Linked DNA regions of Homo sapiens. The protein of the gene in region 1 interacts with the protein of each later gene in a pairwise test. Each region holds a gene or a part of one and is shown in the gene's direction. Other genes may lie near its edges.

Region 1 (7,030 bases):
TAAGTCCTAAGTCAGTGATATCTTTCATGATAAGAGATAGTAGGGTATAGTGAGTAAAGCTTGGGCTCAGAGATAGAAAGTATGAAATTCGAATTTTGCCACTTACTAGCTATGTGACTTTGAACTTAGATTCTGACACTATGTATATTATCATTTATAAAATGAGAACCCTACTTCACAGGGCTACAGCAAATGAAACATACATCTCTATAAAACAGCAAAACACTCTATGTTAGCCAAATAGAAGGCACTTAAGACTAATGTAAACCAGTTTGGCCATTTTTCCCCCATCTACTTTATGTTTACAGCTTTCTTCACCTGGGCTGGCCCTACTGCAAGTTGAACACAAAGATACTCAACATGGTTCACTTGAGGAATACCAACAGGGCCAAGAGACTAAAATATGTCAGCCTATTAGGACCCAGAATTCTTTTCATGAATTTGGCTTCTCCCCAACCTGGTTTTTGGTGGCAATTTTTGAGGGACAGAATTTAGCTCAGATAACTGTTCATTTGTTTATTTCTTTAATGCAGGTTTTATCTTCGTGAAGACTAAGGAACTGTGTGTTACATATTGTTCTGTTGCTTTTAGGTTAAGTTACGTATTTTATTTAGGCCAGGCACAGTAGCTCATGCCTGTAATCCCAGCACTTTGGGAGGCCGAGATGAGAGGATTGCTTGAGCCCAGGAGTTAGACACCAGTGTGGGCAACATGGCAAGACTCAGTCTTTACAAAAATGTTAAAAATTAGGCCAGGCCTGGTGGCACATGCCTGTGGTCCCAAATATTCAGGAAGCTGAGGTGGAAGGATTCCTTGGGGGTCGTGGCTGTAGTGAGCTGTGTTTGTGCCCCTGGGTACTACAGCCCAGGTAACAGAGCAAGACCCTGTCTTAAAAAAAAATGTTATTTTTCAGTAAATCAATTATTAAACATTTACACTTATTGAATTTATTTAACAAATACTGAGTGTCTTCATATGCCCAGTACTATTCTAGGCCCTTGGTATATAGTGGTGAATTGAACATAACAAAAATGCCCTTATGGAGCTTCAATTCCAGGGGTGTTTGTGTTGTCTAAACTGTCAAAGTGAAGACTATTTTAATTGTAATATGAATGGTATGTTCAATTTATACCATTTAATCTTTCAGGGTTTTTAAACTAGAGGCAACTTTTCTTTTTTTTTTTTTTTTTTTTTTTTTGAGGCGAAGTCTCACTCTGTCACTTGGGCCAACTGGTGACAACTTCTTTTATTTATTTATTTATTTATTTTTTATTTTTTTTTTTGAGACAGAGTCTCGCTCAGTCGCCCAGGCTGGAGTGCAGTGGCGCAATCTTGGCTCGCTGCAAACTGTGCCTCTTGGGTTCACGCCATTCTCCTGCCTCAGCCTCCCGAGTGGCTGGGACTACAGGCACCCGCCACTAAGGCCAGCTAATTTTTTTGTATTTTTAGTAGAGACGGGGTTTCACCGTGTTAGCCAGGATGGTCTCGATCTCCTGACGTCGTAATCTGCCGGAATTGACCTCCCACAGTGCTGGGATTACAGGCGTGAGCCACCGTGCCTGGCCTGTGGCAACTTCTTAATAGCTGAAGTTGAATTCCCTTGTCCTTTGCAAATAACTCACTTTAGTTTAGCTATTATTTGTTTATATTGGTAACTTTGATTACTGTAATATTTGTAGGTGGAAAGAATACATATACATACGTATATATATACATACATACATATATATATGGAATTTTTTTTTTTTTCATGGAATTTCGCTCTTGTTGCCCAGGCTGCTGGAGGGCAGTGGCGCGATCTCGGTTCACCACAACCTCCGCCTCTCGGGTTCGCGTGATTCTCCTGCCTTAGCTTCCGGAGTAGCTGGGATTACAGGCATGTGCCACCACGCCTGGCTAATTTTGTATTTTTAGTAGAGACTGGGTATCTCTATGTTGGTCAGGCTGGTCTCGAGCTCCTGACCTCAGGTGATCCACCTACCTCTGCTTCCCAAAGTGCTGGGATTACAGGGGTGAGCCACCACTCCTGACCATATGGATATATATTCTTTGGATTGCCTTTCGTTTTTATAAACTATAAGTGTTTTATGTAAATTTATTATTTGAACCTTTTAAGTTGTTGTGGGGAAACAAGAATGGTGGAAAGGGGGGTGATTTTTCTAGTGTCGTGAATGTTTCAGTGTCACAAATATCATTTCCCTGAAATGATAACCATTCATAAGCCCAAACCCTTTATGTCAGGCCTTTTGAACCTTAGTTAGCTCTTCTGTCTTTCATTGCTTCAATTCTTTAATAAGAAGTTGTTATATATTACTTTCTCTTTGACCACCGACATTCTCATTTTTCTCTAAAACTTCTCAAAGTTAGGAGTGAATTTACAGAGAACAATGCAAAGAATATTATAACAAACTGCAGGAATGGACCTCTGATTTGAAGCCTGGACCTACTGAGAAATGCTTTTGGAAACTACTTCTGCTTCCCCCGTCTTAAAATAAACACGCATTAATTTGTTGAGGTTGTTTTGCATCACTTACTTGCATCTAGTAAATAGGCAAGGAGTGTAGCCAGAATGTCCCCAGAATGGTCAGATGGCAGAAAGAGCAGAGAGAGTGGTCTATTCTTCCAGCCCCCTCCCACAATGGTATAGTGAATTAGAATTCTGCCTCTGTGAGAGTGTTATCCACAGATGTATACCCCTTTGAAGACCAAGGAAGCTATACTCTGATAGGAGCATGCTGTATAAACAATTTCACATTTTCTTTGTCAGTTGACCTCTTTTTCTCAATCACATCACCATGTTGACAATTACAGACCAATGCCCAGAATTAAAAATCATCATCAATTATATTTATTTCCAGATATATGTAAAAAATGGAAACATCATAGATAAAATTAAATCCCCTTTGACCACCATCCCCAATGGCATATCTTCTCATCCCCACTCCACTATCATAAAATGGGTTTATATTCTTCCATCCTTCTTGGTTTAATGCTTTTATATAGAAAAGTATATTAATAGACTACTTTTTTTTTTTTTTTTTTGAGTCAGGGTCTTACTCCATTGCTCAGGCTGGAGTGGAGGGTCACAGTCACGGCTCACTACAGCCTCAACCTCCCAGGCTCAAGTGATCCTCCCACCTCAGCTTCCAGAGTAGCTGGGACTACTGGTGTGCACCACCACACCTAGCTGATTTTTTGTATTTTTTTTGTGGAGATGGAGTTTCACCACGTTGCCCAGGCTGGTCTCAAACTCCTGGGCTCAAGTGATCCGCTCGCCTCGGCCTCCCAAAGCTCCCAAAGTGGGGGACTACAGGTGTGTTCCACCACATCCAGCTTTCAACTTTTTTTTTTTTTTTTTTTTTTTGAGACAGAGTCTCACCCTGCCACCCAAGCTGGAGTGCAATGGCGTGGTCTCGGCTCACTGTTGCAACCTCCACCTCCTGAGTTCAATTGATTCTCCCACCTCAACCTCCCAAGTGGCTGGGACTACAAGCACGTGCCACCACACCCAGCTAATTTTTTGTATTTTTAGTAGAGACAGGGTTTCACTGTGTTGGCCAGACTGGTTCAAACTCCCGACCTCGTGATCCACCTGCCTCGGCCTCCCAAAGTGCTGGGATTTCAGGCATGAGCCGCCACACCTGGCCTTTTTTCTTTTTTAATCCAGTCTCGTTTATGACATTTAGATTCTTATTTTCTCTTTATTATTTTTCCTGATAATTTGACTTTCATTCCCCTTTCTTGTCATTAGCTCTACTGAAAGTGTACTGAAGGGCTGGGTGCAGTGGCTCACACCTGTAATCCCAGCACTTTGGAAGACCGAGGCAGGCCAATCACTTGAGCTCAGGAGTTCAAGACCAGCCTGGCCAACATGGCGAATCCCCATCTCTACAAAAAATACAAACATTAGTAGGGCATAGTGGCACATACCTGTAATCTCAGCTACTCGGGAGGCTGAGGCACAAGAATCGCTTGAACCTGGGAGGCAAAGGTTGCAGTGAGCTGAGATCGTGCCACTGCACGATCTCTCTCTCTATATATGTATATGTATACTAAAGGTCACCAATAATTTCTTAGTAAATATAATGACATTTTCTTCAGGACTTTTTATCCTTCAGAATCACGTTACCTTTTTCTTCCTTCAATTTCTATGTATGGTTCAATTCTCAGCATTTACTATTTTGAGAAAGTACACTTACTCACTCTCTTTCCTGTTTATTCAAACAACTCCCAGATCTGTGTCTTTATTCCTGACCTCTTTTCCTCATTTCCTTTAGCACCTAATTTCTACCTGCCCAGTGGACATTTCCATTTGTGTGTATACAGTATTGCCAATCAATCTAAAACTAAGCTACTTATCTTGACTTCTCAATTTTTGGTCTTTGATATTACCAGTCTTCTTGTCCACCAGCTATAAAACATAAATTTTATTTGTTTGTTTGTTTTTGAGACAGGGTCTGGCTCTGTCGCCCAGGCTGGAGTGCAGTGGCCCATCTCGGCTTACTGCAACCTCCATCCCCCACCCTCCGGCTCAAAATATCCTCCCACCTCACCCTCCTGACTAGCTGGGACTGCATGTCCAGCTAATTTTTGTATTTTTAGTAGAGACGGGCTTTCGCCGTGTTGCCCAGGCTGGTCTCAAACTCCTGAGCTTAAGTGACCCTCCTGCCTCAGCCTCCCATAGTGCTGGGATTACAGGCATGAAGCTAGCCAAAACATAAGTTTTTCTTGTTTTCTTTGTTTTTGTTAAAGAAACAGGGTCTTGCACTCCCAGGCTCAAGCCTCCCAAGTAGCTAGGAGCACAGGGCAAGCCAGCATGCCCAGCTAATTTTTTTTAAACTTTTTTTTTTTTGGTGGGGAGGGGGATAGAGACGGGTCTCACTATGTTGCCCAGGCTGTCTCAAACTCCTGTTCTCCACCAATCCTACCTTGGCCTCCCAAAGTGTTAGGACTACAGGTATGAGCTACCTTGCCCGGCCTATTTACATTTTTTTGCTGCCTTCTTTCCTTCCAGATCCACTTGTTCATCACATATTGTTGATTTTCCTTTTTCTAGCTTCAATTTTTCACTTGGTCCAGTTTGGCCTACAGAGTGGCACTAGAATTAGCGAAGGCACAATTATAATCATGCGATTTCTATACTTAAAAATCTGCCAGTCTCTGTGTCACGTAAAAGGATAAAACGTAAACTTTCAACGGGGTAACGTGCTTTGATCTGTTACTATAATCCAGCCCCAACCTACCTTAACCATCCTTTCCTGCACTCCCCTTCATTGACCCCTGAACATATCCTGCTCTTTCATTTCTTTATTTTTGCTTTAGGTGCCTTCCTCCCTCCTAACACCTGGTGAAGTCTTACCCATATTGAATTCAGCTGAAATACCACAGTGACACCTTGCACAGCTCCCCCAAACAGAGTTAATAACTCCTTTCTGTGTTTCAATAGAACCTTGTTGCATTTATTATAGTGTATCACATTGTACTGTAAATTTTTTAATATACTTGTCCCATGTCTCAGAGCTTCCCACACACACACATATTCATCTGGAAGTTCACTGAGAACAGAAACTGCCTGTATTCCCTATCCTATTTTCCCACAAGGGCCTTAGTGCATAGGAGACCCTCTTTTGTATCATGATGTCTTTCTTTTCATTCTTTGTGACATATCAGTGCTTAGAATAATCATGCAGAAGCACCATTTTTTTAAATTGCCTCATTTGCTCAAAACTTGTATTTTCTTACTGCTTATTGAGATTAAGTTCAGGGCTGGGCACTTTGGGAGGCTGAGGCAGGAGGATCGCCTGATCTCAGGAGTTTGAGACCCACCTGAGCAAAATACTAAGACCCCCGTCTCTACAAAAAATAAAAAAGTAACCAGTGTAGTGGTGCATGCCTATACTCCCAGCTACTCAGGAGGCTGAAGCGGGAGGTTCACTTGAGCCTGGGAGATTGAGGCTGCAGCAAGCCATTATCACATCACTGCACTCCAGCCTGGGTATAACAAAGCAAGACCTTGTCTCAAAAAAAAAAAAGAAAAGAAAAGAAAAAAAGATCTGGCCGGGCTCAGTGGCTCATGCCTGTAATCCCAGCACTTTGGGAGGCCGAGAGGAGCAGATTGCTTGAGCCCAAGAGTTTGAGACCAGCGTGGGCAACATGGAGAAACCCTGTGTCTACTTAAAAAAAAAAAGAAAGAAAGAAAAAATAGCTGGGTGTGGTGGCCCACACCTGTAATTGCAGCTGCTGGGGAGGCTGAGATGGGAGGATCACCTGAGCCCAGGTTATGGAGGTTGCAGTGAGCTGAGATTGCACCATGCCACTGCACTCCAGCCTGGGCCACAGAGCAAGACCCTGTCTCAAAAAAAAAAAAGAGATCATATTCTTTAGCCTGTCCTTCAGGACACTCACCATTATTCACAGACCATTTATTATGCTCCCTATTATGTTTAAGATATGCCGTACATAGCTGGCACCAACTGCCTTTTTAAAGCCTTTCTTCTCTTTATGAATAAGTGTATAAGTACCCAAGTCTTTTGCCCAAGCCAAACTGGCTTGCGCACTTTCTTCCAAACATAAGGTGGTTTTTGTTTTTGGGTTTTGTTTGGCATCTTTTCTTTCAAAGCTCTACCCATTTTTCAAGACCTAGTTAGGTTCTGCCTTGTTTATAATGCTCTTCTGACCATGTCTGCAGAAATATTTTTCTCTTCTTCTCCAGACTCATGTAGCAGTTCATCTTCAGTGCCTCCTAATTCTTTTTTTTTTTTTTTTTTGAGGCAGAGCCTTCACTCTGTTGCCCAAGCTGGAATGCAGTAGTGCAACCTTGGCTCACTGCAGCCTCCGGGTTCAAGCGATTCTCATGCTTCAGCCTCCCAAGTAGCTGGGATTACAGGTGTGTGCCATCATGCTCAGCTAATTTTTTGTATTTTTAGTAGAAACAGGGTTTCACTGTTTTGGCCAGGCTGGCCTTGAACTCCTGGTCTCAAGCAGTCCTCCCCACTCAGCCTCCCAAAGTGCTGGGATTACAGGCATGAGC
Region 2 (6,174 bases), on another chromosome or scaffold:
ATAAATACCATAAAGTAAACTAAAATGACACAGAGGAAAGTAGAGGAAAATGAAATAATTTCGGTACATCTTATGGTTTAAAGAGTAGAAAATAAGATGAAATATCCTAAAATATAGGAGCACAGACATTTAAAATTCATAATCAGGCTAACAACACTCTCTTGAATTTAGGAATCATTGAAAACTCCTTGCACTTAGATTTAATTTATATGTTAGTTACATTATTAAAAGTCATAAGGCATTTATCTGAGTCATTGCTCTACAGAGAGCAATTAATGGCTTGTAATAATAAAAAGAATATTTCTCTGTAATGCATTGTTGAAAGACAACCAGAATATCAAGAAAATGTATATAGGAATATGCTACTTGCCTCCTCCCTGCATTTCCTCGTGGGGCACTATTTGCGACATAGGCCTACAGAATTAGACTTTCATACTTAGAAGATAAGGTACACTCTTCTTCTTTTATTTATTTATTTATTTATTTTTAGGCCATTCTTCTGGTTTGCCAAATTCTATTAAGACAGTGATACATTTGCTTCCTTATTTATGCATGCTTAGATCATGAACATGATGCCCTTCTTTTTTTTTTTTTTCTTTGGTCAAGTAGGGATTAATGCCATAGGTTTAGAGAGAAGGATTGTTTTCAGTTTTTAAGAGAATTTTTTAAAAATACATTTTATGGTTCTCTTAAGGAATTAATATTCACTTCTGAAGGACTTACTTGTAATATATAATTTATCATTTTAGCCAGCAGGGAAATAAATCATTTTTAATCCCCAGAAGAAAGTGCTGGAAATAGCTTCTATATAGTCAGCAGTTCACCTGGAGAAAGATCTTAATTCCTTGTTGTTTTGACTAGGAATATCAATATTTGGTATAAAATAACTAGAATAGTTTATTACCTTTTCCCTCATGAAATTTTAAATATATGCAAATATATATATCATTAGATTCCTGTGGTGGATAATAATTTCTTCAGATTCTAAAACAGGTGTCTAGTGACTGCTTAATTGTTTCCAAGTTGCATCAAAGATGAATTGGTAAATAATGGAAATGAGTAGTGATATGAAAATGGTTATGTAACTACATATTACTTGTTTCTGGTAATCAAGTCTTATTTTTTAAAAGCCTATTGTTTTTCAGAATTGAGATATTTAAAACTTGTTATAACTTCTTCCTAAAAATAGAAGAGAAGAGGAGGTACTGTGTGTTACAAAAATTTTTTTAAATAAAGAATTCAGTGTCACTAGTTCTAAGCCTTTATGGTTACTGCTGCTTATATTTCTTGATCTCACTTTCATTAATTTTTTTGTACATATCTTAGCTGAATGCTTAAAATTTACAATTATTTGTAATTGTGTATGTAAATTGCTTTTCAAAAAGAACTGAAGCTTAACCATATTCTTCTTTTCTGAGGATTCATTATCAGAATCAGCTACTATACTGTTCTGTGTTATAGTAATGCCGTTACTGCCTGTGCATGATTGAGGTCTGTGAAGAAGGTGTCTTTTAATCTGCACCAACTGGCCCCAATCCTCTTTGTAGTCCTTTTTAAATTGTTTTAAATCTGTCCTTTATTTTTCTTCCTATTTTTCTGCCTCTTCCCACTGATGTCCAATGTGTCAGTCTTCCGCAGTTTCCTTTTCTCACTTCTAATTTATTCTCTCTTTTTTTTTTCTGAGGTTAGGGATTCTACAGAAGGACGATTATTAAAATTATGCCATGAATTTTTGAAAAATTTAAAATGCTCTCCTACAAATAAAATACATGGAGTTTCTGATACTAATTTCAGTTTGTCAGTAGATGGCTAAATTTGTTGAATAATTGACTACTTGGTAAATGAGCTGTTAGCTGTAATTAGTTCTTTAGTACTAATATTAAGGAAATTTTGTTATTTTCGGATGAGGACTCTCCCAAAGCCAAATTATTGTCCAAGCAAATTATTTATTTTTTCCATTTAAATTTCTAAGTCATTTTGAGATGTGGAATGATTATTTTTATTATTTATTTATTTATTTATTTTTGAGACGGAGTCTTGCTCTGTCACCCGGGCTTTAGTGCAGTGCACGATCTTGGCTCATTTCAATCTCCACCTCCTGGGTCTAAGCGATTCTCCTGCCTCAGCCTCTTGAGTAGCTGGGATTACAGGCATGTGCTGCCACACCTGACTAATTTTTAGTAGAGACAAGGTTTCACCGTGTTGGCCAGGCTGGTGTTGAACTCCTGACTTCAAGTGATCTGCCCACCTCAGCCTCCCAAAGTGCTGCGATTACAGGCATGACCCACCACACCCAGCCTGGAATCATTTTTTAAAAATAATTTGTGGGAGACTTGCTTTCTCAACATAAATTGTGTGTGGGTTGTTTTTTGTTTTTTGAGACGGTCTTCCTCTGTTGCCCAGGCTGGAGTGTGCAGTGGAACAGTCATTGCAGCCTTGACCACCTTGGCTCAAGCAATCCTCCTGCCTCCCGGGTAGCTGAGTCTACAGGTGTGTGCCACCATGCCTGGATGGATAGAATTTTTTTTTTTTTTTTTTTTTTTTTTTTTTTTTTTAAAGACACGAGGTCTCACCATGTTGCCCAGGCTGATCTTGAATTCCTGGGCTCAAGCATTCCTCCTGCCTCAGCCTCCCAAAATGCTGGGATTACAGGTGCAAGCCACCATGCCTCGTCTGTTTGCCGATTTAAGACAGGTTTATGTACATCATTATCATTAGAGGCACATAGAATCTAGACATGTACTTGAAACTTAGCTCTCTATCCTGAAAGTTGAAGTTAGGGTTCTTTGATCCTGGTGAGATGTTAATTGTAATTTTAATTTTCATATGTTAATATTGTGACTTGTATTTTGTGATGAGTCTCTAGAATGATTAAATGACTATTTTTTTATGAAAAATTTTTTGTTAATAAAATATCTGAGGGTATTTTGAGTATGTGGAAGGAATGCCTGAATAGAAGCTGATCTATCTTAACATACCTCAAGAACTCCAGTTTTAATATGGTGAGTGAGGAGTTGACTGGGAAAAGGAGAGATCCAATTCTTGTTCTAGTCCTTGGCACATACACTCTCTGGGTTTTGAGAAAAGGATGGTCCTACAACGATTCTAAGTTGTTTTCTCATTGGTCCTACAACAATTCTAAGTTGTTTTCTCAAAGGCAAAAGCATGATTTCAAAATGACATCACTTGTCAGATTTTCTGGTGTATGGAAAGATTTAATAATCCTGCCTCTTTTGAAGCCTGAAACTTACAATTTAAAGCCTGAAATCTACCATAAGGAACTTGGTAAATTGTGTCAGATACCATGAAAATGCATCTTTTCATAGTTAACCACAGATTGTTTATGTAAAGGCAAATTGGTGGTCAGGTTCAAGGTAAAATGGATTATTGGGTTGATTAGTAGCCAAAAACTAAATGCATGTTCAGGTCAAAATGAATTTGTTTGTTTTAGTTGGTGCCATTTTCCTTTTATTATTCAGAACTACAGAGTGTGCATTTTATTAATAGGAATGAAAGCTCATGCTTGAGGATTTGAATAGGGTGGATGTATATATTTTATAAACTCAAGTTGCAAAATATGTAAAGTCACTACTTTTTAAATAGAATATAAATGTTAAAACAGACAAATCTATGTTATATATTTTTTAATACATGTATCAGACTTGTTAGTTGAATGCAGATTACTTTGCTTTATGGAATTTCATAACTTTTAATAATAAAGCAGTTGTTATTGGATTTTTTCTGTAGACTTGAATACTAAATGGGATAGATACCAGACCTCTTTTTGGTTTATGACGTAAAAGTATTTGTACAGTAGTTTCTCTTCACAAAAGACTGAATTTTAAAGGATTATAGAAACAGGAACATGTCCATTTCCAAAATGAGTGCAACAGAATGAAGATAGTCACTTAAACCATCTATTTAACACATCACCTTTATGTAATATGTAGCTAGTTTTAGTGTTTTAATAAGTCCCAACTAAAGACTGAGTGTTTTCAGTGAAGATGGAAATGGAGACCCAGGCACTTGCTTAGAGTTATCGTGAGTCCGATGTTCCTGAACTTCAAGTTGTACAATTAAGGGCATACTCTAAGAACTTCTGGATGCTTTCTGGAGTATACAAACAGATCAACTAATGACTTAAATGAGTGACTCTTGAAGCTGCAAGAAGAGGAAAGAAATAACCACAAGAAGGGGCTATCTCAGCATCTGTTATTCCTGACAGGAGGAATTAAATATGCTCTGCTGGTAATTCTAAGCTTTTCTGCAGGGGATCTGCTTGCCCCAGGAGCACCTTAGTCCTCATTGAGGCAGCCATTCTGCCATAAAAACGATCATGTCTCAAGCTGTTCCTGCCGTCCTACACAACTATGTTAGTAGATGGTTAGATAAATATATGAACCATCTTTTGTACTTTGATGATGCCCTTTTCCTTTATTATAATCCTTAATTTCTACTTTCCATAGTAGGATTTGACTTTTCTCCATTAGTTTAAGCTACCCTGGATAAGTGACTCTGTTTATGTCCTCCCTATATTTCTTACTCATTTTCACACTAACATAACACGTAACAAAATTAAACATAAGCTAAATTGAAGAAGCAAGTGAGACAGCTAAGAGTTTTGTGTACTTGGACAACAAAGCTCAAAGCCACTGTGGTTATCTGTCCTGTTGGGAGCCCCTTTCAACCATTTTTTTAGTTGCCTGTAAGATTTATTTTTAATGTTTGCCTGCATAATGCAAAATACATAAGTGGGAATCCCTACGCCCTTTACAGTTAAGTGGATTATGGAAATAATAAGGAAAGTTTATCAACTAAGGTAGGAAATATCTTCTCATGTCTGTATCTGGCCTTCAGGGACTTAATGTGGGTGAATATATGTCATTAGACAAGATCCTAATATAGATGGCTGTATCCTGCAGATAGCCAATTCAACATTAAAATTTTATGTTTCCATACCTCAATGAAAACATATTTCTTTTATCCTGTTATAATTTAATGACATTCCCATCCAACTTAATCAAGCAATGATACTCAGTAGTCCTCTCCTTGCATTTTTCAAGTCCTGTTGAGTGTAACTTTAAAATGTCTCTGAGATTTCTACCTTCTCTCCAGTCTCCTTACCATTAGGGCCTTTCACTACCTGGCCTTGGTGTCCCTAGGCTGCTCTTCAGCTGTCCACAAACCTTGTTTCATAAGCAGTAGCAATGCAAGCTTCCACTGCCGTCTGCTAATGTTCTTCCCTCCTAGAATGTTCATGATCTGCGTTTCTACCTGAAAGGTCTAGTTCAAAGGTAGCTGAAAGGTTATCATCCTTGTCCTTTCTTCTCTCCCTACCAGTCATCTATCCTGAACTTTTTAACAGTAGGGACAGTGTTGCAATTGTGTTTGTGTCCCCAGCACGTAGCACACAGTACCTAGTATACAGTACCTGTAGCACATAGGCATTTAATAAGTGTGTATTGAATTAACTTGGTTATGCTTGTATTTTTATCCTAGCTTTCTCAAAGAAACTTAGGTGCTAGCTATTTTGAAACATATATCCAGAACCACCACCTGAGTAAAATGTATAACAGGACCCTGCTCTTTCTATCCCAGAGAGTTTGAGAAAACTACTTTTAAATAAATCATTAATCATTCTTCATTGGTTTTGGCTTTTTTTATAGGTGTTTCTCATATCTTTATCTCTGAGGCAAATTGCTTGTCACAAATTAATTGTTTTAAACTAAATACATCTCAGGAACCATAAAATCATAAAGGTAAACCTGACATAGAGTTTAAAAACCAGCATTAAGCAGATAATTATTGTGTGCCTTTCATATGCCAAGAAGGATGGCAGATGAGGTATATATCTTCAAAGGGCATATGTAATAAGGGAGATAATAAATAGAAAAGCATATCATATAAAATGTGACAAGCCTTAAGAGGTGCAGATAGTTTCTGATTATCAAAGAAACATGTCTGTGAAAAGTACTGTCATGCATAAAGATGGGCCAGGCACAGTGGCTTACGCCTGTAATCCCAGTACTTTGGGCAGGTGGATCACGTCAGGAGCTTGAGACCAGCCTGGCCAACATGGTGAAACCCCGTATCTACTAAAAATAAAATAACGGCGTGGTGGTGGGCGCCTGTAATCCCGGCTACTTGGGAGGCTGAGGCAGGAGAATAGCTTGA
Region 3 (7,030 bases), on another chromosome or scaffold:
TAGATCTCTCTCTCTTTTTTTTTTAAAGGAAAAAATAGAAATCCAGATTTTGATATGGAATCTTAATTTATAAGTACAGGGAATTTTAGAAAATTCTGCATGATGTAGTACTGAGCTGGCCAAAGCAAACACTTCTCTTCCCAAGGAATCCGTTTGCAGCCTCTGCTTTACTGTGCAGGATATTTGCTGATCATGCCACTCTGGGGTCTCCCTGCAGTCCACAGGCCCTGCCAGCTTCCTGGAAACACCAGAAACAAGCTCTGGTGGCTGCTTGTAACTGCAAGCTGAGACTTTCTCTTTGGATTTCTCATCTTCCACATCCTGCTCTACTTGTTTGAAATCAAACTTACTTTATGCCTGAGAAAACAAAACAACACACTGGTCTTGTCTGCTGACCTCCCCAGTCTGCATGGGGTGGTAGCGCCTTCTGAGGGCTGCAGACTCGGCGCTCCTTTTGTGTCCATTGCTGGCTCAAGCTCTGCATCCTTCCTGACTGTGTTGTTCTCATAGCTCCCTTCATTCCTGCTCTTACTGCCATTTCCACAGGCAGGCCCTCACAGATGCCCTTCGTGGCTGTTCATTAACCTCTGAGTGGTCATGGGTTACAAGCGTTCCCAGGAGGTAGTGCCTGTCCTCTCTAGGTGAGGCTCAGCTATAGGAGCAGCTGGCCCAGGCCCTGGTATAGAGATCCTGATGCCTCTCACGTTATCACCAGAGCAGGAGGAGGGAGATTATGCTATTGTAGACGCTTAGGAATCTGGAGCTGCCTCTGTGTCCATCTGTCCCTGTCTCACTGTAAGACCTCAAGCAAGTCAGCAATCCTGTCTGGGTCTCCATTTCTCAATCTGTGCAATGAGGAGATTGATTAGATGAGGGGTGGCAAATAGGGTTCACTGCCACCTCCAGGCTATTGGAAGTGACTGCCTAAGGGCTGGGTCAGGAAAGATTTAGTGAGTAACCATGGCTTATTGGGAATGGGTGCTATCATTGATCAGTAATGTCTGTCTGGGCCCCAGGAGAGGGGAGGGCAGGCACATGTGAATGTAGTCACTGTCTCTGGGCTGGCAGGTCCTGGGCCTGGTCTCCTTGCCCTTCCTGGAGCATGACTTCTGCTCTGCGTTCCTTTGGCAGTCCTGGTGGAACCGAATGTCCAATCGGTTCCGAAAGCTCAAACTGATGCAGACGCTGCCCCGTGGGCTGTCCAGCAACCAGCCTTTGCCTTTCTCTGACGAGCCTGAGCCAGCTCTGGACTCCACAATGAGGGCTGCCCCCCAGGACAAGACAAGCCGCTCTGCACTCCCTGATGCGGCCCCTGTGACCAAAGACAATGGTGAGAAAAGTCTGCATGTGCAGTAGAATTTTTGGAATGGTCTGAGCCTGTACCCTCTGCCCTTCATCCTACCTCCTGGGTTGCTGTCAGGGGTAAGATGATGTTGGAATGGGACACTGGAGCATAGAGGCTGGTCTGGTGGAAAAGATACTTAGGCAGGGACACAACCACCAAGAGTGTGATAGAATGAGAAGGTGCTGGCCAGTGGCAAGAGGCCCAGGTTCCTGTCCCACACTCCCTGCTGAGGGACGACAGGGAGTCGTCCTCTCTCTTGCCTTTGATAGGTGGTTTTCCCCACCTCTGAAATGTGATTGGTCTATGACACTGAAAGCATCTTGAAATAAAATGAGTTACTGGGAGGGTGTGAGTAGTGAGCTCCCCGTCACTCAAGGTATTCAACAGCTTGGATAACTTTGTCAGTTTGCTGAAGGAGATTCCCATACTGACTGGAACATAGATAAGATCCCTTCTAACAGTCAGATTCCCCATGACCAGATTAGCTACTTTGGCACCACTGTCTGAGACAGACTATTGAGCTGGGGGCACCACTGTCTGACTCAGTACGGCAGTGGTTTATGGAAAAGCTGAAAACATGCTCCAATATACCTTTTAAATGCCTTCCTTCTATTAAAATATCGAATACCAATTATTATTAAATATTTAAGCACCCAGGAGAGTTGGTTTTCCAGGTTGAAGCCTGCCCCAGTCACTCATCCTTATGCTGTGGACACGTGGAGGGGTCATTTCAGGAAATTTCCATTTGTCTCTCAGGTCCTGGGAGCACAAGAGGAGAAAAGGAAGACACGTTATTGACAACCATGGTGAGTGTGGGGCTTTTCTAAAAGCATTTTAGGTCTCCGGCAATCATCAGTTGATTGATTTACAAGGAGGGATGTAGGTGTTTGTCTGTCTTTGTAGTGGTCACAGATAGGGTTGGTGATGAGAATGTGTAACAGTGGGCTTAGCTCTGGCACTGAGGAGTCAGAACAGATGCCAGCTCTAAACTGTGGAGAGGGCTGTGCTGGTGCTCACCCGCTGGGTGTCAGCCCTGGCCCTGTTCTCATGGAGGCAGGGGATTGAGGGTAGGAATTGATGGGCAGCATGAGAAATGAAGACTCACCATTTGGGCTGTGGAGAACCAGGGTGAGAGGAGTCAAAGAGGAGGCTATGTTTCCAGCTGGGGAGGCCTCAGTTTCCTCATCTGTAACTTAGAGATGTATTAGGATTAGGGTCAACTGTGAGTAACGGAAAATCCCCAAGTAACAATGGTGTAAATAAGACAGCAGCCTACTTCATTCAAGTAAACAAAGTCCAGAACTAGTATATGGCTCATTGGAGTTAGGGACTTGAGTCCTTTCTGCCTGTTGGTCCCCCATGTGTAGTTTCTGTTTCTCAGGTCACCTCTTGGTTCAAGATGGCTGCCAGAGCTCTGGCCCATGACGGCCTCATTCCAGCCAGCAGGAGAGAGGAGGGGAGAAGAGGTAGCCATGGGCACATGCCAGCTGTCTTTAAGGAAGTTTCTTGGGGCCACGCACAGTAGCTCATGCCTGTAATCCCAGCACTTTGGGAGGCGGAGGCAGGTGAATCACGTGAGGTCAGGAGTTTGAGACCAGCCTGGCCAACATGGTGAAACCTCATCTCTACTAAAAATACAAAAATTAGCTGGGCATGGTGGTGGGCGCCTGTAATACCAGATACTCGGGAGGCTGAGGCAGGAGAATTGCTTGAACCCGGGAGGTGGAGGTTGCAGTGAACCAAGCTCGTGCCATTGCTCTCCAGCCTGGGCAACAGAGCAAGATTCTGTCTTTAAAAAAAAAAAAAAAAAGGGTTTTTGGCAACTACTCTGCTTAAATCACAGTGGGGAAGCTGGGAAATGAAGTCTTTGTTCCAAGTGGTCCTGTGCCCATCTAAATGAACATTAGGGGTGTCATTTCTAAGATGTGAAAAGTAGATACTGGGGGACAGTTTGCAGTCTCTGACTTCGGGGATCCCTCATGGTTATGGTTTTTAAACAAGATCACTCCCAGGAAGTTCTTAGCATAGTGTCTGGCCCAGAATAAGCTCCGTGGTGTGAACTTGGATGTGTTACCTCCCCTCTCTGGGTTTCACGTTTGTTTCCTCTGACATGAGAGCTTAGTGGTTAAAGTTGGACTTGAGTCCCTTTAGCGCTAAGACCCTAATACTAGCCAGCAGAGGGCAGTATTGCTGAGGACAAGGGAGCAGAGGGGGCTCCCAGAAAAGGCATCAGCAGTGTCAGGAACTTTAGAGCCCAGCGAGGGGTCCTGACCCAATCTGCCCACGGCTCCCTGCCACCCCAACAGGTGTAAATTGATGGCTCGAACACTGACTGTGGGGGCTTGTGCTGCCTGACGTTTGATCATGTTATTAAATAGCAATAATTATTTTTGGTGTGAAGACAGAAATGCTATTTTAGAAATTTTGGAAGAAGCAGTAAAACATATAGAAGGAAAATAAATTCATCCCTGATCACACACCCAACTATAACCATGGTTGGCATTTTTATGGATATGTCTTTTGAGTATTTTTTGTAAGCAGTTTTTTAGCATGTATAAATATGATATGATGTTGTATATAATAATAGCAAATACCATAGCTTTTACTAAGTACCAGCTACTATTCATCGCACTTTGCATGTATCAGCTCATTTAATATTCCTGAGGTTGGCACTGTTAGTATCTTTCCCATATTGTGTTGAATCCAATTTATTTGTGATTTATGTGTTGTGACCATCTTTTCCATGTCATAAAACACCATGTAGCCACATCATATTTAATGGCTACATTAGAACATTCTAGTGTAGGAACGTGTCTCTTTATCCAAGACTGAACTGTCAGACTCTGGGATTTCTAGTTTTTTGTTATTTTAACAGCTCAGATGAATGTCCTTATACCTTCGTTTCCCCCACTTGCCTGATTATTTGCTCAGGATGAATACCTAGAAATGGAATTCCTGGGTCAAAGGTTGTGAATGTCATTGGCTTCCAGAAAGATAGCAACAATTTAGACTGTTACCCCAGGGAGGGAAAATACCCTTTTGTGGTGGTGGATTTGTCGCTGTGAGTTTCCAACTCAACCCCGTTTGCTGGATGAGCTTGTTGTGGTCTAGAGGGAAAGAGGGGACAGCACTTGTTTAGAGACTCAGAAAAGCAGGACAGAGCCAGCCTGGGAACCCCGGAGGTGTACTACTTCCCCAACTGCTCATGCCCTGTAGAGGGCGCCAGTGTGCCTGCCCCCCCATAATGGGTGGGGTGGCCCGGCTGCCCTGCTGATGGGCATGTGCAGCCATCAGTGTGGAGATGCCCGCCTGCTCGGCTCCCGAGGCGAGTTTAGCTGTGGGATGCCCGTTGCTGCAAAGCTCCATCTGGCACAAAGTTCACTATTTTTCTTAATTAAGGTGAGCTTGGTCTGTGAACACTTCCTTGAAGATCTAACAGTCATTACTGTGTAGATTTTATACTGACCCCCAAATCACATTTTCAAAATTAAAAATTAAATTACAATTAAATGTCAGCAGCAGGAGGCGTGGCTGGAGCAAGCTGGGATGTGGGGGGCTGGGGAAGAGAGTGGTGCTGAGCCCTAGCCCTTATCACCTCCTGCTTCCTTCTTCACTCCCAATGGCTGCTCATGCTGGTCTCCTTGCAGCACTGCACCCATGTCCTGCTCCTCTAGGTTCCAGGCCTTTCCATATTCTGGCCCCTCACTCAGTCTGGAATGCACCTCCTGGTCCTCACTGGCCCAGCTTAAACTGTCGTTCTCAGCTCGGTTCCCACAAAGGTGCCTTCACTGTGCAGCAGGGGCACCCCTCCTCTGTGTTCTCCCAGTTCCCCTGCCTCCCCCACAGCACACCAACATCATCTGCTTCTCCTTGGCGCTCTGTCTCCTCTGCCCCATTCTGATCTTGCTGCTGTGAGGAGAGATCCAGAAGAAGCCTGGTGTTGGCGCAGAGCAGACATGGGTGTTGTGCGGTTACTGGGAGGAGAGCTGTAGATGCCACATAGCTCCCGGCTTGGGTGGAGGGGTGGATGGTGGTGCCATGCCCCAAGAAGCAGGAAAAACATGGAGTCTTTCCTGCAGAGTTGGGAGCCCTCCTGGGGGCTTGTCTAACCCTCAGCCTGTCTTTTTCAGCTTCGAAACGGAGCTCCCCTCACCAGACTCCCGAGTGACAAGCTGAAAGCAGTCATCCCCCCATTCCTACCCCCTTCCAGTTTTGAGCTGTGGAGCTCTGATCGGTCCCGGACGCGTCACAACGGGAAGGCAGACCCCATGAAGACTGCGCTGCCCCAGAGAGCCAGCAGGGGCCACCCCGTGGGCGGCGGGGGCACAGACACTGTAAGTTGTCTTCTGACACACTTTTACACATCACTCACTGCTCACTGAGATCATGGTGTGTTCCAGGCAGCGGGACCTCAAACCGACGAATCCAGAGGGGTTGCAACTTTTTTTTTCTTTTGAATGGATGATATCCTTTTGTCTAATGAAGCCCTACAGAGCAACTCAGTATGGAAAATAGATTAAAATGTTGAGGTAGCAGGGAACATCTGTCCCCTCACTGGAACCCTAGATCTCCAAGGAGCACAGTTTGAAGACCTGATCCATCTAATCCAACCTTCCTTTTAGTAGATGAGGAAACTGGGACCCAGGGAGTGGGAGTAATAGCTGAAGATCACCAGCCAAGTGTGAGTGAACCATAATCAAGAGCAAACACTCAGCGGCAACTCTGTGTGCTACTGGTGTTTTCTTGTGCCCAAGAGTATGACTTCTATCCTTTTGACTGTAGTGATTTCTAACTTGGTGGCTCTTGGTCTGTTTCTGAAATTGACAGTCTCATCAGTGTGGAAGGTATCTGTGTGTAACCTGTATCTAGATGGTAGATGCAGCAAATGGGCAAGACGAAGGGATTCAGGACTGACCCTGTCGCCATGTGCTGGGTGATTGGAGAAACGTGTGGCCTCTATCTCTATACGATGGGGCTGACCCCAGCACTCACTGCTGCCTCCTAGGGCTATGATAGTATGAGATCACCTGCAGGAGACCAAGAGCCTGGCGCCTGGAGATGCTCTCAAAACAGGCAGGACAGGTTTGCATTTAGTCCACTATTCTCGATCAGGTAGGAACGGGGGAGTTGTAGAACCCATCCCTGAGACTTCTTCTATGGCTGTGTTTCCTTGAGAATTTAACCCTAGAGGGACAGAACATCAACTTGACTTGCTTCATTTGCTCAGTGAACATTAACTGAATCCCACTGCCATGTAGCCCAGTCAGCCCCATTCTGCCCTAGAAGAGGTGGTGGTCTGGGTGGCAAAGACACAGGCACAGAACATGAGGCAGGGAGCAGTGTTAGGAGTGTGGGAGCGCCAGAGAGGTGACCGTGTGTGGTAGGGCACTCGGGAGGCCTCCAGGAAGAGGCGACAGCTGAGCTGGGATTTGCAGGCTGTGGAAGAGTTTTCTCCCCAGTGGAGTGCAGGCAGCAGCGTCCCAGGTAGAGGGAGAGAGAACGTGAGCTATGGCCTTTGCAAGTGTGTTCTGTTTCGCTTACTCAGCAGAGGGGCCTCATTCTGGGCCCTGGGGATCGTGTCACTGTCCCTCCCTTAGGAGTGCCCACAGTGGGGGGCCAGGGCCCTGGGATCTGTCACTGTCTCTCCCTTAGGAGTGCCCACAGTAGAGGACCAACAAGAGGACC

Evidence for each region.
Region 2: the proteins of MARCHF5 (region 1) and UBE2W interact in binary tests that used the Homo sapiens proteins (3 or more experiments, as listed by UniProt).
Region 3: the proteins of MARCHF5 (region 1) and ANKS6 interact in binary tests that used the Homo sapiens proteins (3 or more experiments, as listed by UniProt).

Annotation. Positions count from the first base shown.
Region 1 is NC_000010.11:92,294,143-92,301,172, forward strand, and holds part of MARCHF5 (E3 ubiquitin-protein ligase MARCHF5), read left to right. Parts: intron 1-7,030. UniProt on the Homo sapiens protein: Mitochondrial E3 ubiquitin-protein ligase that plays a crucial role in the control of mitochondrial morphology by acting as a positive regulator of mitochondrial fission and as an important regulator of immune response.
Region 2 is NC_000008.11:73,785,689-73,791,862, reverse strand, and holds the end of UBE2W (ubiquitin-conjugating enzyme E2 W), read left to right. Parts: 3' UTR 1-5,644; downstream 5,645-6,174. UniProt on the Homo sapiens protein: Accepts ubiquitin from the E1 complex and catalyzes its covalent attachment to other proteins.
Region 3 is NC_000009.12:98,772,526-98,779,555, reverse strand, and holds part of ANKS6 (ankyrin repeat and SAM domain-containing protein 6), read left to right. Parts: intron 1-1,131; coding exon 1,132-1,330; intron 1,331-2,101; coding exon 2,102-2,151; intron 2,152-5,475; coding exon 5,476-5,679; intron 5,680-7,030.